Linked DNA regions of Homo sapiens: regions 2 and 3 are each linked to region 1. The links come from fine-mapping of genetic effects on gene expression. A gene starts in region 1. Each other region holds a variant in brackets. All regions are shown on one strand. Distances are from middle to middle.

What was found. PIP is the estimated chance that this variant, and not a neighbour inherited with it, causes the effect.
Region 2: its variant is fine-mapped to the expression of IQGAP1 in whole blood (TOPMed, PIP above 0.99). The same link has a PIP of 0.9 or more in blood mononuclear cells, cerebellar hemisphere, cerebellum, esophagus muscle, hippocampus and nucleus accumbens.
Region 3: its variant is fine-mapped to the expression of IQGAP1 in cerebral cortex (GTEx, PIP 0.96).

The regions. Positions count from the first base shown.
Region 1 is chr15:90,385,029-90,393,208 of GRCh38, forward strand. IQGAP1 (IQ motif containing GTPase activating protein 1) reads left to right here and starts at 3,214. Exons shown (of 38, transcript NM_003870.4): 1 at 3,214-3,368; 2 at 5,746-5,845. The coding sequence starts at 3,314. It also overlaps the pseudogene NDUFA3P4. RefSeq lists a silencer at 2,938-3,717.
Region 2 is chr15:90,435,306-90,443,485 of GRCh38, forward strand. It overlaps IQGAP1 (IQ motif containing GTPase activating protein 1), which reads left to right. Exons shown (of 38, transcript NM_003870.4): 6 at 4,027-4,094; 7 at 5,197-5,310; 8 at 6,201-6,379; 9 at 8,089-8,173. Among named protein-coding and RNA genes, the nearest start is that of IQGAP1, 51 kb to the left of the region's middle. RefSeq lists a silencer at 1,759-1,959. The variant A/G (reference allele first, on the strand shown) is at 4,928.
Region 3 is chr15:90,642,060-90,650,205 of GRCh38, forward strand. It overlaps CRTC3 (CREB regulated transcription coactivator 3), which reads left to right. Exons shown (of 15, transcript NM_022769.5): 15 at 1-3,286. The coding sequence ends at 81. The region is part of intron 2 of CRTC3-AS1 (CRTC3 antisense RNA 1); the gene reads right to left. Among named protein-coding and RNA genes, the nearest start is that of LINC01585, 14 kb to the right of the region's middle. RefSeq lists a silencer at 4,545-4,728. The variant T/C (reference allele first, on the strand shown) is at 3,698.

The DNA of each region.
Region 1 (8,180 bases):
AAGAAAAAAAAAAAGAAAATGTAATAGGAAATCTAATATAGACAATATAATAGGCACAATTTATTCTTTATTATTATTTTTTATTTTTATTTATTTATTTTTTTGAGATGGAGTCTCGCTCTATTGCCTAGGCTAGAGTGCAGAGGCATGATCTTGGCTCACTGCAAGCTCCGCCTCCAGGGTTCACGCCATTCTCCTGCCTCAGCCTCCCGAGTAGCTGGAATACAGGTGCCCGCCACCATGCCCGGCTAATTTTTTTTTTTTTTGTGTTTTTAATAGAGCTGGGGTTTCACCGTGTTAGCCTGGATGGTCTCAATATCCTGACCTCGTGATTCGCCCACCTCGGCCTCCGAAAGTGCTAGGATTACAGGCGTGAGCCACCGTGCCCGGCAATTATTATTATTTTTTAAAAGACAGTCTCGCTCCGTCAACCAGGCTGGATTGCAGGAGCACAATCTCGGCTCACTGCAACCTCTGCCTCCTGGGTTCAAGTGATTCTCCTGCCTTAGCCTCCCGAGTAGCTGGGACTACAGGCGTGTGTCACCATACTAAGCTAATTTTTTTGTATTTTAGTAGAGACGGGGGTTTCACCATGTTGGCCAGGCTGCTCTCGAACTCCTGACCTAAGGTGATCCACCCACCTTGACCTCCCAAAGTGCTCGGATTACAGGTGTGAGCCACTGTGCCTGCCCTAGTAGGCATAATTTTAAATATTTGAAGATGTTGAATTAACTGAGTGAGACTTAAAAAAAAATTTTCAGGAAATTTCAGAATGCTCTATGTCCTCGTTGCCATTGCGGCTGCCTTTCTCAAGAATGCCTGGCCTAAGGAGCGGGTGCTGGTCCTGTTCCTCACCATCGGGGGCCTAGCTATAAATCTGACCCCAGTCTGCCCCTATACCATGTACTCCACCAGGATCAACTAGGCCACGCCCCACAACAACCCAGTGCCCCTCCGAGATGATGGGAACATGCTGGACATGCCCAGCCACCCCCAAGGCCCAAGCATGGAGTGGTTGAAGAAACTGCAAGCACTTCCATTGACATGGAGAAGACCATGTCCCCTGTGGCCCCCAATAAAAATGTGACCCCCCCGCCTCCGAAATAAATAAATCATTCAGTTTCTGAAAAGTGTTTGGTAAAATGTGCTAGACTTATAAATAGAATAATACAATTTGTAAAGTGAACTTAAAAGCTTAAGAATGAAATAACTTTTTACTTTGTAGGCTTAATAAATGAAACCCTTGCCCACTTTTCTACAGGGGTGTTTTGTTCTTACAGGTTTTCAAGTATCTTTAATAGTCTGAAGGAAGAGTGAATACATTGAAAATAGCTGGAGCAAAACATCTGGAGTCAGGCTATGATTTGGCATGCTAAATCATGCTGAACTTGGCCCATTATCTTGAAGGGAGGAATAGAAAAAAAAATTTAAAAAGAGAAACACAATTGCATTTGCACTTTAGAGAGAACACCCTGATAACTGTGAGGATCTAGTTGGCAGAAGGGCGACTACAGTGTAATCACAACAGGGATGGAGACAAAAGTAGACATCTCAGAAATAAACACAGATTGGATGTAGGGTGCGAGGCAAGGAGCCTGGGGTGTTCCCACTGGGAATTGAGTACTTCTGTGAATAGAGAATATAGCAGGAGCAGGGTCAGTATTTGACACGTGGGATTTGAAGTGTCTGCCCTATACACAGGTGAAAGTGTTCATTAGCTGAAAATACTGAGGGACTTCCAGACGATCTGGTCTGGTGATACATATCGAGGGGTCCTCAGCAGTTATAGGCGAGTGTAGAAAAGATTACTGAGTAGGCAAAGAATAAACGGAAGAGGGCCGGGCGCGGTGGCTCACACCTGTAATCTCAGCACTTTGGGAAGCAGAAGCGGGTGGATTACCTGAGGTCAGGAGTTCGAGACCAGCCTGATCAACATGGTGAAACCCTGCCTCTACTAAAAATACAAAAAAAGTAGTTGGGCGTGGTGGCGGGCACCTATAATCCCAGCTACTTGGGAGGCTGAGGCGGGAGAGTCGCTTGAACCCGGGAGGCGGAGGTTGCAGTGAGCCGAGATCGCGCCACTGCACTCCAGCCTGAACGACTGAGCAAAACTCCGTCTCAAAAAAAAAAAAAAAAAAAAAATGCCGGGCGCGGTGGCTCACGCCTGTAATCCCAGCACTGTGGGAGGCCGAGGCGGGTGGATCACGAGGTCAGGAGATCGAGACCATCCTGGCTAACACGGTGAAACCCCGTCTCTACTAAAAATACAAAAACTTAGCCGGGCGCGGTGGCGGGTGCCTGTAGACTCAGCTACTCGGGAGGCTGAGGCAGGAGAATGGCGCGAACCCGGGAGGCGGAGCTTGCAGTGAGCCCGGATCGCGCCACTGCACTCCAGCCTGGGCGACAGAGCGAGACTCCGTCTCAAAAAAAAAAGAAAATAAAAAAAAAGAAAGAAAGAAAAGAAAAAAGAATAAACAGAAGAGGGCTGCGGACAGAATACCGTTGAATACCAATATCTGAAGGGCAAGCCACAAGGTGCAGGGGGCAGAGGCATCCCTGATACGGGAAAAGAGTTATTTTAAAAAGAACTTGCAAAGAACAATGTCAAGGGATCCAAAGGTAGGGAATTTGGACAGAGTTCGGCTTTAGCATCCGCATCTCAAATACCTGGGTACCTGGGTAATCTGGTGACTGCTGCCGAATCTAAGAGGACTGAGGCCAGGTTGCCAAACTGCGGAGAGTGGGGTTGGAGGGCTTTCATGGCAGTTTGGGGCCTGCTTGTGTCCAACAAGACAACCTGGGTCACCTCAAAGGGTGTCTTCTCCAAATATTGGTGCAGAGGTTAGCTGGGCCGGCAAGAGAAGGGAGATGACCCACTATTTTGATTTCAGGCAGCAGACACCGGCAGCCTTTCGGTTAGAGTTGCGGATAGGGCAGTGGCCTTGGGGGCGGGGCTATAAACCTGGGCGGGCATTCCCGGCAGGGCAAGCTCAGCGTGAGCCCGATTGGAGGATGGGCTCTACCTTCTTCCTTCCGCCTACGGAGACCATAGCGGGATGCAGGGCGGGGCCGGGCTGAGGGGGCGGAGTTAGGGGCGGGGCACGGTGACTCTGGCCCCGCCTCTTTCCGGCCGCTCAGGGCGGTGTCGCTGGGGCGGTGCCGCTGGGGCGGGGCCTGCGGGGTGGGGCTGACGGCACGGGGCGGGGCCTCGGGGACCCCGGCAAGCCCGCGCACTTGGCAGGAGCTGTAGCTACCGCCGTCCGCGCCTCCAAGGTTTCACGGCTTCCTCAGCAGAGACTCGGGCTCGTCCGCCATGTCCGCCGCAGACGAGGTTGACGGGCTGGGCGTGGCCCGGCCGCACTATGGCTGTGAGTGCGGGGCTCCGCGGCGCGGGGGCTTCGGGCTGGGCTAATTGCAGACGAGGCGCGATTTTCCTGGGGGCTCGGCCGGGCGGGTGGGGCAGGGCGGCTGCCGGCAGCTCGGACCCGGAAGAGCCGTCCCGGTGGGGCGGCGGGCGGCGGGCGGGGAGGCCCCTGGTTCGCGCCCCCTCGGGGTCCGAGGCGGCGGAGAGGACCCCCGAGGCCTCCCGCCTTAGCTGGGGCCGCGGTAGGGGGAGCCCCACCCAGCGCCTCTCGCCGCCCAGGCTCGGCCGAGATTGGGGAAGACGGCCTAGAGTGAGGTGGCAGGATGACCGCGCAGGGCGTGTCCCGGGGATTGGGGGTCTGGGTACGCGGGCTCTGCCCGTTTCGTGGAAAGGCGCTGCCCTAGTGTTGCCTGCGGGGTAGACCCAAGGGATAGACCAGGGTCCAGACCTGTCCGGTCCCAGGCTAGCTACGAGGTGCCGTCCTGGGCAAGTCACTTCAGTTTTCTCGGGCTTAGTTCCCTCCTCAAGATTTCAAAAGTAAAATAGTAATAAAGAAAAAAAAAAGAAGCAGAAAATCCTCTGACTTCCTCATTTTCTGTTGTCGGCCCTGGACGTCATTGAACTGCAGGCAGGATTGGCTAAAGGAGGACCCTTTGGGATTTTGAGGTTTTCGGTTTTATTTTATATTGTGGGAATAATGTTCTTTTTTAAAGGATCAACATTTCACGCATCAACAGTTATACGTGAGGTATTGTGCCACGTTTGTGAAATTAAAGATGAGTAAGATCAGGCCCTGTCTCCAAAGAGCGTTTTAATCAGAGAGTCAGGTGTGCAAGCTAATGATTATAAGGTGCAATAATGATAAAAGATGCTGAACTTACTAGCCATACAGAGTAATGTAGGTAAGGAGAAGGGGCCTGGGGAAGACAGTATGAGCACGGGAGGTGACTTTTTTTTTTTTTTTTTTGGAGACAGGGGGTCTTGCTCTGGTCGCCCAGCCTGGAGTTCAGTGGTGCAATCTCAGCTCACTGCAAACTCCACCTCCCAGGTTCAAGCGATTCTCCTGCAGTCTCCCGAGTACAGGCGTCGGCCACCACACTGGCTAATTTTTGTATTTTTAGTAGAGACAGGGTTTCACTGTGTTGGTCAGGCTGGTCTCAAACTCCTGATCTCAAATGATCCCCACGCCTCGACCTCCCAAAGTGTGAGCCACTGCACCTGGCCTGAAGGTGACATTTGAACAGAGCCTTGAAGAATGCTGTGTAGAAAGTTTGACAGGTGGCCAGGCATAGTGACTCCTGCGTGTAATCCCAGCACTTTGGGAGTCCGAGGTGAGAGGATAGTTTGAGGCCTTGAGTTTGAGACCAGCCTGGGCAGCACAGTGAGACTCCATCTCTTAAAAAAAAAAAAAAAAATTAGCCAGGCGTGGTGGCCCATGCCTGTGGTCCCAGCTGCTTGGGGCTGAGGTAGGAGGATCATTTGAGCCCAGAAAGTCGAGGCTGCAGTAAGCCATGATTGTGCCACTGCACTCGAGCCGGAGTGACAGAACAAGACCCTGTCTCAAAAAAAAAAAAAAAAAAGTTTGATAGGGCATGTGGAACAAGAGACAGGACCTGAGGGAAGAGCATAAACAAAGGTATTGAAAGTAGAGGGATACTGTGTTGGGAACTGAGTGATGTAGACTGCACAGTGGTGGGAGGAAGGGAAGAGGAGAGTTTCCAAAAATAGTTGGGACCAGACTGGGAAAGGCCTTGAATGCCTTCCCAAGGAGTTAGGAATTTATTCCACACCTGGTGCCCATGAAGGAAGCAGATTGCTTCAAGGTTAAGCTCAGGCTTTGGAGACAGACTCTCCAGGTTTGGATTCAGGCCCTGTCACTTATTTGCCATGGGGCTGAGTTCACCCAGCCTCAGTTTCTTCGTCTGTAAAATAGGAGTGATAATCACAGGATTGTTGTGGGGTTTCAATGAGAGAATGCGTGTAAAATGCTTCGTACAATTACTGCCACTTATGTCTCAATAACTGCTGGCTTTGGTCATTAATAAAAGAGGGAAACAATATTATCAGATCTGTATTTAGAAGGAGTTCTGGCAGATAGGGACAGATTTGTGCCAAAATCTCAAGACAGTATTTTTCAAGATTACACTGAAACTTAGTACATATTTATATTATCATACATTTTTAAAAAGGTCAAGATGATTATAGTTGAAACCACATAGTTCTTTTTTTAAGAAAGTCATTGTAGTACACCTGGCTGGCTACACACTCATTAGTTATCCTGACTTTCTAGGTGAGTGGCAGGAAATTGATTCTGTGGCAATCTTTTATCACTCAGGAAGGCTACAGATCCTGGTGTTTACATTCTTTCTTTTATGTTGTAGCTGTCCTGGATAATGAAAGACTTACTGCAGAGGAGATGGATGAAAGGAGACGTCAGAACGTGGCTTATGAGTACCTTTGTCATTTGGAAGAAGCGAAGAGGTAAAGATTGGCTGGCTGGAGAGAAGATTAAGAGAAGGGAACTGATAATAGTGTGAATACAAATAAAGATTGCTTTGAGGCTGAACACAGTGGTCCATGCCTGTAATCCCAACACGTTGGGAGGCCGAGGTGGGGGGGAATCACTTGAACCCAGCTGTTTGAGACCAGATTGGGCAACATAGTGACACCCCATCTCTACAAAAAAATTTTAAAAATTAGCCAGGCATGGTGGTGCATGCCAGTAGTCCTAGCTACTCGGGAGCCTGAGGAGGGAGGATCACTTGAGTCCGGGAGGTCGAGGCAGCAGTGAGCCGTGCTCTCACCACTGTGCTCTAGCCTGGGTGACAAAACTCCTGTTTTTGGTGGGGGGAAAAAAAAGAAAAGATTTATTTGAGTATGTTATAGATGTAACTGGGAAGCTGGTGGTTGAGGGAATAAGTATAGGTAGGGTATTTATTTATGGCAATAAGTAGCCTTGATGAGAGTTTATCATGAATCACTGTGATGGGCATTTAAGTGTACTGAACGGTTTTCCAGGTTTCTATTGTTCAGTCTTATGCTTATTGTGCATGTTTTGGGCGTTACCAACTGTGGGGTGGAAATAGCATTTTTAGGATTTGAAGTTATTGGCTTTAATGTTTCACTTATGCTTCATGAATTTTGATTTATATATGAATTGAGTCTCCTCCTCCTATGACCTGCGGAGTGGCTGCTTGGTTTGGGAGGCTTAGAAGCGTGGTGCTGTTGGTGTAGGTCCATCTGTTTGGCAATATTCAGAGTCAGCATCCTCTGCATTCTTTGTGAAGTGAATGTAAAGCTGCTCTTTTCCTTTTTCAGATGCCCCACAACCTTGTGGTCTTAATTTTAGAGTGTCATTTTGTTATCAGTGATTCATTTCTTTTGTTCTGGTGCTTGTGTTCTTTTGCAGAGTCCCAGGGTAGATGTAATTATAGATCATGTATTCTATAAGTGAGCTTTGGTGGAAAAGTCAAGTGAGGGATAATGAAATATTTGTAATTAACGTTTAATAAAAAGGGTGTTTGAAGTGGTGCTAATAAACAAGTGTGTGTGTATGTGTGTATTTTAATTCTGAAAATCTTAAAATGCTACAAGAAAGTCCAGAGAACAGTACAACAAACATCATTGTATTCCAGAACTAACAAATGTTAACATTTGAGATATTTCCCTTTCCTCTAAAAACAAAACAAAACAAAACCAACATCGCTACATTTAAAGTCTTTTTTGTGCCCCTCTGGTCCCATTCTTCCTTCTCCTGGGGCAAACACTAACCTGTATTTTGCATGCCCTCTTGTGTCTAGGCTTCTTTTCTGAGCTTAAAACTTCCAGGAAACTGGAGCTTGGGTTTCAGTGATGACTTAAGTGAGGAGGATAACACTTGTCTTTCTAAATAATAGAAGATGACATAGCAAGGCATGCTATATCACTAGAAAAGGGGGCATTTTCTCATATGAAGTTTATAAGAAAACAAAAACTGTAAGATCTCTGCCATTTAAATTGTGGATTTCAAGGTTTGGAAGGTCAAAGAATTTGGAAGCTGCAGCTGTTCTGAGAGACCATCTTGTGCTCTGTGGAGCTTTGGTGATTCCACTGAGGTGACCTGGGGGTGAGAGGGAAGAGCTTCAACACACCTTCCTTCCCCCATCCAAAGTAGCTCTGCTTTTGTTTTACTGTTGAATTTCTTGAATAAAATTCACTTGTTACAGAGGGTGTTTTGGCTAACACCTCCCCTCCCCCAAACACTACCAATAACTAGTTCAACTGCTAATCTAGTTCAACCATCTCATTTAATGAAGAAACTGAAGCCTGAGTTTTTTGGTCTACTTGTAGTTTTCTTGATTGAAGAATGTTTCTATCTTTTTTTTTTTTTTTTTGTACAGTCTCGCTCTGTTGCCCAGGCTGGAGGGCAGTGGCGCAATCTTGGCTCATTGCAACCTCCACCTCCCGGGTTCAAGCGATTCTCCTGCCTCAGCCTCCTGAGTAGCTGGAATTACAGGCATCCGCCACTACGCCTGGCTAATTTTTGTATCTTTAGTAGAGACTGGGTTTCACCATAATGGCCAGGCTGGTCTCAAACTCCTGACCTCAGGTGATCCGCCCGTCTCAGCCTCCCAAAGTGCTGGAATTACAAACGTGAGCTGCTGTGCCTGGCCTCATCATTTTTTTAACTATGGTTGTTAACCAGGTGTGTGCATTAGAATCACCTGGGGAACTTAAAAAAAAAAAAAAATACACCTATCTGGGCCCTACCATAGAGATTGTGGTTCAGTAGGTCGGGGTGGGAGATCCAGACACATAGTAGTCCCTTGGTATCTGT
Region 2 (8,180 bases), 50 kb after region 1:
ATTTCTACAAGAAATAAAAAATTAGCTAGGCATGGTGGCATTCACCTGTAGTCCTAGCTACTCTGGAGGCTGAGGTGGGAGGATCACTTAAGCCGAGGAGTTTGAGACTGCAGTGAGCTATGATTGTGCTACTGCACTTCAGCCTGGATGACAGAGCGAGACTCTGTCTCTAAAAAACAAAACAAAACATTACCAAATATGTGTGTCTGAGTCCAGATCAGATTAATTCTGAGTATTTTGTTTGGCTTAGTGTTGCATGAGATTTGTCCATGTTGATAATCTTGTGAAGGCCTTACCTGCAATGGATATCTGAACGTGGAAGCAGAATTCCTCTCTGCTAGTTGTGTAGCCACTACTCTGCAGTGTAACCTGGGTTCCAGGCCCTCAAATTCTCTGTAGTAGAGCCTAAAGAATTAACTATGCCTTCCTAGTGGTAGAGTCAGAATGAGAAAGAGAGGAAGTCTGCTATTGTTTTCCATTTCTCTTGAATATGTAGTCTGTGCTTAGAAAGTATATATAGAGCAGTGTGTTTCGTGATTTATGGTTTCTTTTTTATGGTGTTTTTCCTGAAGGGTGGATTGGCAACATTTGATAATATGTAGGAAGTATTTATAATTGCTGAAAGTGCCTTCTTTTACCACAAAACACAGCCATGTTCAAAGCAGGTTCCTCACCTTGCTATATTGGATAAGGCTCCATCTCCCTTTGGATCAACAGTGACAGAAAAATACTACCTCTCTGTCTCCTCCCTGCTTGCCTTTTTTTTTTTTTTTCCTCTAAAGTCTTGATTGGCATTATTCCAGAGATAGTCACTGTACTTTAATCATACTAAATTACTTTTGTAGATAACATTCCACTCTCAGATAAGACCCCAGTTTTCCATTCTCAAAATACTTGTATACTAAGTTTGGTGTAAGCTCATTTGTCTCCTTAGTATGATTATGTTTGTGTGTTTCTCTGCAGAAAGTAATGGATTGGATTGAGGATGCTGCCCCAGGGCTTGCTGGGGATACTTTATGATACCATATACACTGTAAATAGAAATACACTTTCTAATATCTGAGAAATTCAATATTCAGACATATCTGGCTCCAAGAATTTGGATAAGGGACTGTGGACCTGTAGTAGATTCTGTTTCCTAATCACCTGCTGTGTTTCAGGGTCTTTATTAATAATCTTTGAGATTGGCATAGTGACTTCTAGGTTACTCACCATTCACAGAAAAGATAATTAGAATCCAGATAGATTAACATAGCTTCCTTCTGCCCATTGCTACAAAGTACAGCTTAAGTAGGAAATAAGAAAAATAAATCTAAGTGCAGTTACAGGCTGACGCATTATAGTGCCTAACAGTATATTTGTAGAAGTAGGCATGGGAGAGCAGGAGCAAAGATTGGAAAGTGCTGTTCACCATTAGGGTTTATAAGTTTCAGTGTGAAGCTAAGTACTTTTGATTGTGGGTAAGAGGACTTAACTGGCCGTTTTGAATCCTTTCATAGCTCCAGTGTCTCCATAAAATACTCGTAATAATTAAAGAGAGTTAAAAGAAAGATGGTGCCCATGTCTACTTTTTATATTAGCCAGTGATACGGTTGTAGCACCTTTAATTTACCACTGAAAGACATTAAAAGCTAAGTCAGTGTTCCTGGTACTGTGAAAGCAACTGTATTAGTCCGTTCTTGTACTGCTATAAAGAAATACCTGAGACTGGGTAATTCATAAAGAAAAGAGGTTTAACTGGCTTAAGGTTCCACAGCCTGTACAAGAAGCATGGCTGGGGAGACCTCCTCAGGAAACTTACAATCATGGTAGAAGACAAAGAGGAAGCAGTCACGTCTCACGTGGCAGGAACAAGAGGAAGAGAGAGGTGGGGAGGTGCTTACATACTTTTAAAAAACCAAATCTAGCGATAACTCACTCACTGTTAGGAGAACAGCACCAAGGGGGAAACCTGCCCCCATTGATCCAATCACCTCTCACCAGGCCCCCACCTGGGGATTACAATTTGACATGAGATTTGGACAGGGACACAGACCCAAACCATATCAGCAACATTCTTGAACTTTCTTAAAATTTCTTGTTCGCTATTTCCAAGTAGGAATAAATGAGAAAGAAATTCTTGGAGAAAAATATTCTCTTAATTAAGAATGCAGATGTGATGTATTAGTGAGAAAAATATATAAAAAATATATAAAAATGTATAAAAATATATAGAAAGTTATTAGTTATTTTGCTTTGGAATTTCTTTTTTAAAGAGGCAGGGTCTTACTCTTTTGCCTAGGCTGGAACGCAGAGGTGTGATCTTGACTCATTGTAACAACCTCCCAGGCACAAGCTATCCTCCTGCCTTAGCCTCCCAAATGGCTAGGACTACAGGCATGCACCACCATACCTGGCTAATTAAGAAATTTTTTTTGTAGAGACAAGTCTTGCTATGTTGCTCAAGCTGTTTTGAATTCCTGACCTCAAGCTATCCTCCTGCCTCTCTTTCTCAAAGTACTGGAATTACAGGTGTGAGCCACTACACCCAGTCTGGAGAATTTTTTGAATACATTTAAAATCTTCTGAGACAGGCGCTTTATATATCCATCTTGAGTCTTTTACCTGAAAGAAAAGCATTTAATCATATACACATGACTTATACTTGCACTTCTCTGAGAAAATGTTTAGCTTCTGTGGATGTATAAATTCTAGTGTGTTTTGAGAATACTTGATTTTTGTTTTTCTATTATACATTTGGGTTTATTATATACAATTTAAATTTTGATCAGTTCTGTGATTGCAGTGTACATGATGCGTGTTTGTATTTAGATGATATTGAGGTTTATAGATTATTTACAAAAACTGTATACCACTTTAAGTTTCTATGATTTATTTCTTATATATTTCTTATTTCCCTGCTTACTTTAAACTGTCAATATCTTGCTTTTGTCAGTATCTGTAAAGTACCCTTCTGATCTCTTCTAATTTATTGATTCTGATCAGTTAGGGCTTTAGAATCCACTTAATAACACAGGCTTATGGACATTAATTTATCCGTCCATCCATCTGTCAAATATTGATTAATGTTTATTAATATATGCTAGGCTCTGGGTAAACATTAGTGAATGAGCCCTGTATTGTCCCTGCTTTCATGAAGCTTAGAGTCTAGTTGATTTTTTTTTAAGTTTAAAAAGTAAAAATAATTTTCACCAACCTGATAATTAAAAAGTAAAAATATATGAAATATTCTTTATCTAAAACTGTTAAATTACCTGGATTAAACTTTTCCATCAGTAATATGAATTCAGTTTAAGTAAGATTTGCCATCTGAATCATTTTTATGAAGCTTTTCTAAAATGTCTTATTATTTAAAACTTATTGATTACAGGAAGGCAAACAAATGAAGAGACACTTCACATTATATTAACATTAATGTTAACATCTTTTTTTTTTTTGAAACGGAATCTCACACTGTTGCCCAGGCTGGAGTACAGTGGTGTGATCTCGGCTCACTGCAGCCTTTGCCTCCCAGGTTCAAGCAATTCTCCTGCCTCAGCCTCCTGAATAGCTGGGATTACAGGCACATGCCACCACGCCTGGCTAATTTTTGTATTTTTAGTAGAGACAGGGTTTTGTCATGTTGGCCAGGCTGGTCTCAAGCTCCTGATGTCAGGTGATCCGCCCACCTCAGCCTCCCAAAGTGCTGGGATTACAGGCATGAGCCACTGTGCCTGGCCATTAACATCTAATTATGCATTGAGTTTGTGCCAGAACCGGGACTTTAATTTGTGCCTACTGATTTCTCCCAGTCCAGTGCTCTTTGCATTGTGTTATGTGACTTTTTAGGACAATGTTGTCATGTAAACTAAAAAAAAAAAACTGAGGTAAATAGCGTATTGTAACTACAAAGGAGACTGTCGTAGGTACTGGGAGTCTCAGTGTTCAGAATACTTCTATTTTATACTTCATGCTGATTTTCGCCTTTTAAGGGTGGCAGCTAGGCACAGCTGGGAGGCCTAACCTTTTGCATATTGTATCTTCTAGTTTGTACCTGTTCAAGCTAGGCCTGGCCCCTCAGATTCAAGACCTATATGGAAAGGTTGACTTCACAGGTAAGGAGTTAGATACTTGGCAGGAAATGCTTGAATTATGTGGAAATAGCCTGGAGAGCCAGCAGTACCAATTTTGAAGACCTAGGGCTTTAAAAATACACTGGCAGTGGAGGTGAAAAAAATACGAATAACTTGCTTCTCTAATGTGGGGTAAAGAACACTAAACTTGAAATTTCAAGCTCTGTTCTCTCACTTAATAATGTGAACATGATTAGTGAGTCTCAGTTTTCTTATATGTAAATTGGGGATAACATTAACATATATAAAACATAATAATGTTAACACATAACACTAAATGTTCGGGTATGTTGAAAAAAGCTTTATAACTATCTTTCCCTTTCCATTCCAGCAAGCATCTGTTGTGGGCAAAGCAAGAGGGAGAGTGGGGAGTGAGATGACACAAAGATGCCAATTTAGTAATTTTAAAATTTAAGCTTATTTGGGTGGGTGTTTCTATGTGTATTTGCTATAGCCAGATGCTTGAAGAGATGAGGGGTTGGGGAGAAAAAGGGCAGTGGTAATACTGTTTAAGGGTAAGATAGATTCAAGTCTTTCAAAGTGGTGATTATTTTGTAGGCTTGAAAGTTTAAAAATTGGTAAGAAAGTTTTTGTCCATGATATTTTTTCCTTCCAGGGAAGTTATTCACCAGACCTGGGGAAAGGACCAGACCTTACATGTTTTCTTTATCATTTGGCTTTCTGCCTTAGAAATGAAATTGTTGAATAGCAGCTAATGATTGTAAAGACTGAGATAACTGACTTAGTTTGTGATTCACTTATTGTTGAGCTCACGTTAAAGCTGTTCCATTTATAAGTTCATTGTAGGAAATGCC[A/G]TAAGTAGCAATTTTGAAAAACTATTTCCTGTAGGACCTTCTCACTTTATAGTTATTTTTGATGCCCTTGATAATAATAACGTTTGACTACATTTTATATACTAGTTACTGTGTTAAGTGCTTTCCATACATTGTATCTTTATATCCTTATAAAACCCTAAAAGGTAAATGCCATTTTATCCCATTGCATAGTTGAGGAATATGTTTCCTTCTCTTGGTTATGGAAGGGTGCTTAGCTTGATTGACTGATTATTAATTCCCTCCTGTAGAAGAAGAAATCAACAACATGAAGACTGAGTTGGAGAAGTATGGCATCCAGATGCCTGCCTTTAGCAAGATTGGGGGCATCTTGGCTAATGAACTGTCAGTGGATGAAGCCGCATGTAAGAAGAGAGAAATTTTGTGGGTTCAACTGGGATTGTTGCCACTATTTCCAATAATTAATTCTATAGTGATGATCTAGGACATTATGAATCTTGCCAGCAAGTTTAAGTCCACAGATGTAGTTGTAAACACATAGTCTTCCATGCTGTTATTATTTGGAAATACATGATTAATTCTGATTAAAGTGAAAGCATTTAGAAAGGAAGTCCTGGCTGGGCGTGGTGGCTCACGCCTGTAATCCCAGCACTTCGGGAGGCCAAGGCGGGTGGATCACCTGAGGTCAGGAGTTCAAGACCAGCCTGGCCATGGTGAAACCCCGTCTCTACTAAAAATACAAAAATTTAGCCGGGCATGGTGGTGTGCACCTGTAATCCCAGCTACTCGGGAGGCTGAGGCAGGAGAATCACTTGAACCCAAGAGGCAGAGGTTGCAGTGAGCCGAGATCATGCCATTGCACTCCAGACTGGGCAACAAGAGTGAAACTCTGTCTCAAAAAAAAAAAGAAAAAAAAAGAAAGGAAGTCCTACATTTCCGTGGCTCATTGAGTTTCTTATTGTTTTATGGTGTTTACTTGGTAATTAAGGCAGATATCTCCAGAGCAAGTGTTCCTTGCAAGGCTCTCTTATGAGTGTTTCTCTGTGAGATTCTAAATTCACCATCCCAGACATGGATCACAGATGGAGCTGTGGCTTTGCATACTGTAAGGAAGAGGCTAGGCTCATAGCCTGGCCCAGGGAGCCAGTCTTCGAACCCCAGTTGTTATTTCTCTGTGAAAAGGAGCCTCTGTCTCTAATGGGGGGTGCAATGTTGCTTTCTGTTGTGATATACATCCTGTAATCTATATAATCTCAGTGTTTTTGTTGGTTTGTTTTTTTGTTTTTTTTTTTAGTACATGCTGCTGTTATTGCTATTAATGAAGCTATTGACCGTAGAATTCCAGCCGACACATTTGCAGCTTTGAAAAATCCGAATGCCATGCTTGTAAATCTTGAAGAGCCCTTGGCATCCACTTACCAGGATATACTTTACCAGGCTAAGCAGGACAAAATGACAAATGCTAAAAACAGGGTAAAAATGCAACATCTATTCTTTCTAATTAATTTATATTATTCCGTCATTTGATATGGCTCCAGTTTAAACATCAGTTTTATTGAGATGCAGTTTACATACAACAAAATTCACCGGATTTTAAATGTACAGTTTGAGTTTTGAAAAGTATATGTGATCATTTAACCATCACTCCCAGAAAGTTCCTTAGTGCACTTTTGCAATTAGTTTCCACCTTACCCACACCCCTGAGCCCAGGCAACTACCAGTCTATTTTCTATTGCTGCCATTGACCTTTTTAAGAATTTTATACAAATGGAATGATGCAGTATCTAATCTTTTGGTGTGAGGCTCCATTTTGACCTCTGCTTCTTGAATTTTATATAAATAAAATTCTAGAGCGTAGCCATTAAAATTAATAGTGCCCTTTGGAAAGATTATCTCTAAATATTAACATAGTCTTTCCTCTTTCCCAGATTCTCTGGGGTAAAATGTTTGTGTACAGTTGTTATGGGTATGTGGAAGTTAGTTAAATGATTCTGACTTGAAAAAACTGAATCTGAGGATCTCATTTCCCGAGGTCAGGAGTTTGAGACCAGCCTGGCCAACATGGCGAAATCCCATCTATACTAAAAGTCAAAAATTAGCCCAGCGTTGTGTTGGGCTCCTGTAATCCCAGGTACTTGGGAGGCTGAGGCAGCAGAATCTATTGAACCTGGGAGGTGGAGGCTGCAGTGAGCCAAGACTGCACCAGCCAGGAGACAGGGCGAGACTCCGTCTCGGGGGGGAAAAAAAAAACTTCACACAAATTTATCCACCCCTTGTTAAAATTAGTGGTTGATGACAAAACGAAGACAATCCTGCTCTCAGAACATTCTTTGTATCTCTTATCATAGAGCAGGGATTTCAGTTTCCCAGTTAGGTGCCAAACTGGCCTGCAGGCAAGTAGCTGCTGCCCTGCCTCTGCCTATGTCACCAGTGAGACTCCAGGATTGTGGATCTGTATGTGCCCATTCTGCTCAGATCTGAGGCAAGGATGTGCTGCCCCTAATCCCAGCACTTTGGGAGGCCAAGGCGGGCAGATCACTTGAGGTTAGGAGTTTGAGACCAGCCTGGCCAATATGGTGAAACCCTATCTCTACTAAAAATACCAAAAAAATTAACTGGGCATGATGGTGCACGCCTGTAGTCCCAGCTACTCAGGAGGCTGAAGCAAGAGAATCACGTGAACCCAGGAGGCAGAGTTTTTAATGAGCCAAGATGGTGCCATTGCACTGCAGCCTGGGTGACAGAGTGAGACTCTGTCTCAAAAAAAAGACAGAATCTCGCTCAGTCACCTAGGCTGGAGTGCAGTGGCACGGTCATAACTCACTGCAGCCTTGAACTTCTGGGGAAAGCAATCTTACTGTCACAGCCTCCTGAGTAGCTGGGACTACAGGCATGTGCCACCACATTGGGCTAATAAAAAAAAGTTTTTTGTAGAGATGGGGTCTCGCTATGTTGCCCAGGCTGATCTCAAACTCTTGGCTTCAAGCCATCTTCCCACCTTGGCCTTCCAAAGCACTGGGATTACAGGCATGAGTTACTGTGCCTGCTTTGTTCTTTATAAAGGGTCTTAAGCTACACCCATATTCTTGGTAGTGTTATGGTGCAGGAGGAGCACACGTGTATTTATGTGGTCTTCTTAGACACCTTAAGCTAACTTAATTACGCTTTTTACTCATCCTCAGACAGAAAACTCAGAGAGAGAAAGAGATGTTTATGAGGAGCTGCTCACGCAAGCTGAAATTCAAGGCAATATAAACAAAGTCAATAGTAAGTA
Region 3 (8,146 bases), 260 kb after region 1:
GGACTCAACATGTTAAGTGACTCCAGCATGGGCCTGCTGGACCCCTCTGTTGAAGAGACGTTTCGAGCTGACAGACTGTGAACAGAAGGCAGTGGAACAGAAGAATGTTTTTCTGCAACAGCCAAAATAGAATGGAATAGAATGAAGCCAGCTGATACCACGGGCTTTCGTTATCTTGACATAGAAGGAAGCAATGCCACGGCTCCAGGGTTTCAGATGAGATCCCATCTCAGACACTGTGGCTTCCTCCAGATCACACAGCTTTGTACTGCCTCTCCCGCCTGTGGCCAAAGTCGTGTTGCAGCAGGCAGGCTGCTTGGAGCTTCCCATGAACTGGAAAGCTCACCTCCACTGCATCTTTTTACTGGCCATCCAGTCAGCCGATGTGTAAGAGTAGGAAATACTGTGTCACTGGAGGCCTCCGTAGCATTGTGTAGTGTGCTCAGAACCACTGATCTCCGTCCGCACCGAAGGCGGGCCCGGAGTGGGAGGCTCGGCCTGGGGCGGCGGCACCGGAGAGGGCACCTCGATGCCTGCTCTGACCTGACCCAGAGGGCGAGGCCCTCCAGCGGGGGACATTCCCAGGCTGAGTGGACCCCACGGCTCTCTCCCACGCCTGGATTACGACATGAAGTTTTTACCACAAGCCCGAGGGCAGGCTTGAGTTAGGCAGACTGAAGGCTAATTTTCATTTTCTCCCAGCTGGTTTCTGCTGCTTCAGAAAAGTACACCTTTTCCTTATGGACCAGAGGAAGAGGAAGACCATTTTATCAGTCACTGAAAAGAGTCCCCTGGCACTGATGAGCCTGAAGAGAACTGTGCTCCTCCTCGGGGGCTGGGGAAGGAAGACAGGGACTGCAGGTGTCTCATACTCAGTGGCCTCCAGACAAACTCCAGACAAGCACAGACCTCCCCACTAAGAGCAGCCAGAGGGAGCTGGTGAGGCCCTAACCCCACCCACCGAGCAACTGAGCTTCCCCATCCCTCCCCAGAGCTGTGTCTCTGTGGGCTGGGAGTCTAATGTCACCCCCCTAGACCGTAAGCTCCTTGAGGGCAGGGACAGTGCCTTATCATTGTTGAACCCGTAGCACCTAACACGTGCGTGGCAGCACAGTCGTGTGCTGGAGTGAGTGCTGCAGAACCGTGCGTGCAGCGCATGATGAATGAGTGCGTCCGCCATGCCGTAAGGCAGGCTCACCTGTAGCTATCCCCTTCCCTGCCAGATCTTCTCAGAGCTTTAGCTTTTCTAGCACTCGTGCCTATGGTGAAGCATGCACTTTAATATGCTTTTAACACTAGGTGACCAAATCACAGTGAAGCCGGGCACTGCATTCTCCTTGGGCTGTGCTCCACGCGGGTGGGTGGGAGCTGTCTTCTGAGTACATCCGGAAGGGCTGAGCAGGTGAGTGCCCTGAGCATCCTGGCTGGGCCCCACCCAGGAAGATCTTCCTTCTCAGATCCACGTTTGGCTCTAAATTGCTTCAAGTAGAGATTCATTCTTTGAGGTTGAAAAAATAGTTTATAGTAAAACGAAGGCCTAATTCATGGAAGCATCATTAGTCATCAATACCTTCTCATAAAATAGATGGGCCAGATTTCCACCACCGCCTGCCTCCTCTAACTTGGGTGATGCCAGTAGGTTTGAAGGGGGCAGAGCACTGCAGGGGGAGGGGGGGGTCTAGGCTGTGAGAGGACAGGGTGGAGAGGAGGAGAACCCTGAAGGAGAGACGGAAGATGCCAGGACCTTTGCTTGGACAGCCATTGCCCTTCCAGGAGACCCTGGAGTGTACTGAGGGTTGCTGGACTGTTCCACCCAGAGGAGCAAGGCTGTACAATGAGGGTCTGAATCTGGCACACCTGTCCCTTATGTAAAAGGAGTCGTGGTCACAAGACCCTGGGCTGGTTAGCCTCTCCCGACCTCATTCCATTTCTATCTTCTGACCTTGCCTCTCATCTTTAAAATAACCCTCATGGGGTGCCCCTCCACCTTCCTCTGGAATCCAAGTATTCCTGTTTCACATTTGCCCCAAATCTTTGCTGTGGAATTGGGAAATCAAACCAGAGTCCTCCTCGCCTGATTTCCAGCTCAGGAAGGGCCTGCTGGCCTGCCCTGTTCCCAGTTACACTTTCAGATCCCTTTGTGCTCAAGATCTCAGAGGGGGTGGCTTTTTGTTAAAGAGCCTTCAGTCGCAATGCTACCCAGCACCCCATGTGCCAAAAGAAACCAGCTCCTGTGTCAAAGGGCTTCCAAACCTGATCTCACTCTCAACAGGCGATGGTGCTGATGTTTCAAGAATTGTGTTTTTATAAAACAGAGGTCTCAGCATAGTCACTCTTCACATAGTGCCTTACCCATGGGTATCGTCATATCCGGGTCCCAGTTCAGTTTGTCTGCACAGCAGCCACCCTGCCTGGCAACAGAGACCCCAAGACCTACACAGTGAACCCTACTGCCCCAAAGGCGTTCTCCAGGTGACTTGTGAAAACAGACCTCCGGGGAAGTGATTTATTGGGGGTGTACACTGGGGGCAATATGGTTTAGCACTGAATTCAATTTGTCCTTAGGTCTATGAGTGAGTCCGATCTTTTCTTGTGAAAGGTTTTGGGCATCGTACAACCCACTCTGCCTAGAAGGTGTGGAGGACTCACCACGGGCAGGGTCGCCCTGGCCCACAGCACGTGAGCCTGCACTCACTGCGGCCTTTGTAACAAAACCAGTTGTGGTCCTCAGCATTTGAAGCAGCTGCATACTTCAGAGTAAACTATTTTTCATTATTTAGTTTTGTCACAAGAAATCGACCATTGTACTACTCTCACTTACAGCAGTTAAACAGCATAGAACTAAAAACCTGTCTGCATTTCCATTTTTTCTTTCTGTATGGTTGTGGGTTTTAGGACATAGGGGGTTAGGAGAAGGGGTTTCTTGATCATGTCATGAATTCTCCTTTGTCCTGTTTCTCCTGTTTCATTTCTCCTCCGCCTGCTGTATATTACCTGAGCTGGTGTTGTATCTTCAAGTCCATATGCGTATTTGCAGACCTTTCCTGTTCCCACTCTTGTTGGCTCTTCTGATTTATGCACAGATGGTTCCCAGCATGTGTCCAGTGCTTCATGGATGGGACCATCCCAGCAACTAATCAGACTTCCTGCCAGTGTCCTAACCCCCAGGGCACCCTGTTCAACCATATTTAAAAATTGGAATTTGTATAAAGTTGCTTCCAAGTTTTATAATGCATCATTTTACATCTTTTGTAATTAAAAGCATCACAATGAGGTTGTCTCTGCATTTGGTGGTGTTTTTCTTCACTTGGGTGAGGGGTTGGTGGGGAGCCTTAATCTCACCGCCTCCTGCACGGCTCAGCCTGCAGCTAGGATTTGGAGCCTTGGCAAGGCAGGCCCTGTACCAGCTGTGGGTCAGGCCTTCTTGTGATACGTGAAGGGGCACTCAGTTCCCTTAGCTGGAGGCAGCTGGGTCTCCTGCCCCCACAGCCAGCACCCGCTCCACACCCCTGCCCACGGCCCTTCCTCCACCAGATACTCTGTCCTGGGTTGGCCTCTAGCCCTGTCCCTTCCCCAGACCCCCATCCCAGCAGGGTTCAACGCGAACAGCCACATCTAGCACTTGTCATAAAGGTGACTGTCTCCTGAAATCCTACCTGGAAATCCTGTTTCTGACTTTAACTTCCTGAGCCCCCAT[T/C]TCCACTCTGGTCTACACACACCCTGTTCTTTGACCGCACTGAGAATTCTTCCGTGTCCCCTCTTCTCAGCCTGCCCGTCCTCTCCTAGCTTCCCTTGCTTCTGCCCGGGCCCACCTGGCTCGTGGCCTCCGTGGCACCCCCAGGCCCCTTCTCCTGCCACCACGCCACTCTTCCTCCTCAAGACCTGCCACCACGTCACTCGGGCTGAGCTTTCTGTTGCTGGGAGCCCTGCGGGAAGAACCAGCACTTCCAGGCTGTGCTGACCCAGCCCTCTCCTGCCACGTGGGGCACCCACGCCCTCCTCTCCTCAAGGCTCATCAGACCACATGAGGCCTTCTTGCCTCCCATCCAGGCCACCTGGGCCAGCTCCCGCCGTGTCCCAGCTGCTCCCCATTCCGTCCCATGGCCCGTCGCGCCTTCCCCAGCGTCCCTATGCCTTACGAGGTCCTGTTTCCACGTCAACCTGACCTTCCGCAAGGACTTGCTGATGTTCTAGGGCCTTCTACTTAGCCCTCTCTGATGGCACCTCCCCATCAGCCTGTGAAGATGCCCAGTCTCCTTCCTCAGAACAAACAGAAAACTCTCCTTTCCCCGCCGGCTACCCCTCATGCCACAGCCCTGTGTCCTGCCTCTCCTGGAGGAGCACTCCTGCTCAGCCTCCTTCTGCCCGCAGCCCCAGGGAGCCCTCCAGGATTCCCTACTCTCCTGCCTCTGTCCAAGGCCCTCTGATGTCAGCCGCATCCTGACCCTTTGGCCACTCTCTCCCCTCCGAAATCCTCTCTGGCTCCAGTAAGGCTTTTCTGCATATTCTACCACCCAGGCCATGCCTGTCTCCTATCATCCTCCCCCTCCACCATCATCTTCTTTCCATCGACCTCCCAAACCAACTTCTCCAGCCCTCCAAGCAGACGACCCTCATACTTAGCCCTCTCCCCACCTGCCTATCAGCCAGTGCTCATGCCCACCCCACCCCTTGTTTTCTGGAGATCCGGGTCCACCTGCAATTGACATCCAGCTTCCCCACAGGGCTCCAAACTCTGCAAGCACAGGGGCATGTTTACTTGTATGCCACTTCCCCAGCACCTGGCACACAGTAGGGGCTCGAAAAATCCGCAAATTCTTCCGAACTGTTGACAGCAGCTTCCTTCTCTTGGAGCTCAGCCCCCATCACCGCCATGGAGCTGGAGACCAGGTGTCCTCCAAACACCTCCTCTTCCTCACCTCTCCTCCTCCTGCACACCCCAACTCCTCCACACCCACTCCCCCTCTACAATCCTCCTCCTCCTCAACCCTCCTCCTCACCCCTCCTCCTCCACAATCCTCCTCTTATTCCACACCCCTCCTCCTCCAACCCCTCCTCCAAAGCCCTCCTTCTCCTCCACACCCCTCCAAATTCCACAGCCCTCCTCCACCTCTACACCCACTGCTCCTCCACAATCCTCCTCCACACCCCTCCTCCTCCACAATCCTCCTCCACACCCCTCCTCCTCAATCCTCCTCCACACCCCTCCTCCTCAATCCTCCTCCACACCCCTCCTCCTCCACAATCCTCCTCCACACCCCTCCTCCTCCACAATCCTCCTCCACACCCCTCCTCCTCAATCCTCCTCCACACCCCTCCTCCTCCACAATCCTCCTCCACACCCCTCCCCCTCACCCCTTCTCCTCCACCACACCCCTCCTCCTCCACACCCCTCCTCCGCCTCACACCTCCCTCACCCCTCCTCCTCCACACCCCTCCTCATCCTCCACACCCCTCCTCCGCCTCACCCCCCTCCTCCTCACCCCTTCTCCTCTCCACATCCCTCCTCCTCAACCCTCCTGCTCCACATCCCTCCCCCTTCACACCCCTCCCCCTCCCCCTTCACACCCCTCCTCATCCTCCACACCCCTCCTCCTCACCCCTCCTCCTCCTCACCCCTCCTCCTCCACACCCCTCCTTCTCCTCACCCCTCCTCCTGTGCCATCTTTTCAAACACAGGATACTTTAATCTTGAAAAGTACTGAATTTGTATACTTGTTTTGAAATACTAAATTTTCGATCTGGAAGGAATGATTTTAGATCTTATTTTGGGCCAGGCACAGTGGCTCATGACTGTAATCCCAGCACTTTGGGAGGCTGAAGCCGGAGGATCACCTGAGGTCAGGAGTTCGAGACCAGCCTAGACAACATGGTGAAACCCCATCTCTACCAAAAATACAAAAATTATCCGGGTGGGCGTCTGTCATTCCAGCTACTGGGGAGGCTGAGGCAGGAGAATTGCTTGAACCCAGCAGGCAGAGGTTGCAGTGAGCAGAGATCACACCACTGCACTCCAACCTGGGTGACAGAGCGAGACTCTGTCTCAAAAAAAATTAAAAATAAAAATAAAAAAAGATCTTTTTGGTCCATTTTACCTAATAAAGCTGTATGGTAGGCAGGTATGGAAATTGGGGTTTACAATAAACCAGCTATATGCTGCTATGTCCTCATGTGGACACTAGGTGGAGCTGCAACTATAAGAGTGGCTCTTAGGACCCAGAACAGGACAGAGAGCCCCGGACCCCCTCAACTTTAGCCCTTGAACTGGGCTGGCAGTGGTGTTGGCTAGAATTGAATTGTATGATATGGAGTAATAAGTATCCTTAGTGACCACCCAGACTACCAGACACTGCACCGTCAGAAGCATTCAAACCAGAGTGACTCCATCTTGAACAGGGGCTGTGGGTAAAATGAGGCTGAGACCTGCTGGGCTGCATTCCCCGGAGGTTAGGCATTCAAAGTCACAGGAGGAGACAGGAGATAGGCACAAGATACAGATCACAAAGATCACACTGATAAAACAGGATGCAATAAAGAAACTGCCAGAACCCGCCAAAACCAAGATGATGACGAAAGTGACCTCTGGTTGTCCTCACTGTTCATTATTCACTAACTATAATACATTAGTTGCTAAAAGACACTCCCAGCAGCGCGTGACAGTTCACAAGTGCCATGGCAACGTACGGAAATTACCCTATATGGTCGAAAAGGAAGAGGAACCCTCAGTTCCAGGAAATTCCCACCCCATTCCTGGAAAACTCATAAATAATCCACTCCTTATTTACCGTATGATCAAGAAATAACCATAAGTCTACTGAGTCGAGCAGCCCGTGCTGCTGGGGTAGCCCCTTTTTTATTCATTTACTTTCTTAATAAACTTGCTATCACTTTGTCAGCTTACTTTTGAATTCCTGCATGAAGCCAGGAATCCATGTGGCCTCCCAGGCTGAACCCTGTGACAGCACCACACACATCCCTCACATCAACCTGAAAACGAGGCAGGGCATGGAGGACTTCTTTTTTTTTTTTTTTTTTTTTTCCGAGACAGAGTCTCGTTCCGTCGCCCAGGCTGGAGTGCAGTGGTGTGATCTTCGCTCACTGCAACCTCCGCCTCCCGCGTTCAAGTGATTCTCCTGCCTCAGCCTCCCGAGTAGCTGGGATTACAGGCATGTGCCAGCACACCTGGCTGATTTTTGTATTTTTCGTAGAGATAGCGTTTCACCATGTTGGCCAGGCTGGTCTCAAACTCTTGACCTCGGGTGATCCACCTGCCTCGGCCTCCCAAAGTGCCGGGATTACAGGCGTGAACCACTGCCCCTAGCCAAGGATGACTTCTTGAGTTTACAGAAGAGGAAACAGGCCCATAGAGGCTCTGTCACCCAACTAAACAGTGAAGGCACAAAGCCTGGACCCAGTGGGCCTCACATCAAGGCCTCCTGACCTCACCAGCCCAGAACCCAGGGCTCCAAAGTGCATCCTTCAGGATCTGCTCACAAGTTTCCCTCCCCTGTGCACCCCCGGCCCCCGACTACGCCCATCACCAGGGTGAGGGGTGCGGAAATGAATCGCACCCTTCACCCTGCAGAGGTGGGCTCTGAGCAGCCCCTCTGGGAAGGGTCCCCACGGATCCCAGTGAGATAGAAGCCTGGCAAAGGAACACGTGTTTTTTTTTTCTCTCTCTCTTTTCCAGACATGTATTTTAATTTTTTAAAAAAGCTTTGCTCTGATAAAAATAGTGCATGCTCATTATAAGAAATTCAAGTAACACCGAAGAGTACCAAAAACAAAAATTTCAAGTGGTCCGGAAATCCAGCACCCCAGAAATAATCATGGCTGACACCCAGGAAACATGGATGGAGACATCTCTCTACGCACATATTCAAAGGAGTTTTTTTAACCAAAATGGGCTCATACAATACATACTCTTTTTAGAAAAAGTGCCATACTTAAATTTAACAGAACAAAAGGCAACTTAAATGTAACTAAAGAAATTACCAAGCTGCAAATAATGACGCTGCTTCTTCTGGTTCTAAATTATTTCTCTAAAGGAAAGAAAAATATTAAGCAGCTGGATTCATTCTTTCAGCATGTTTCAACTATAGATGGCATCTCTTGACAACCTACGATTTAGGATAAGGAAATGAGC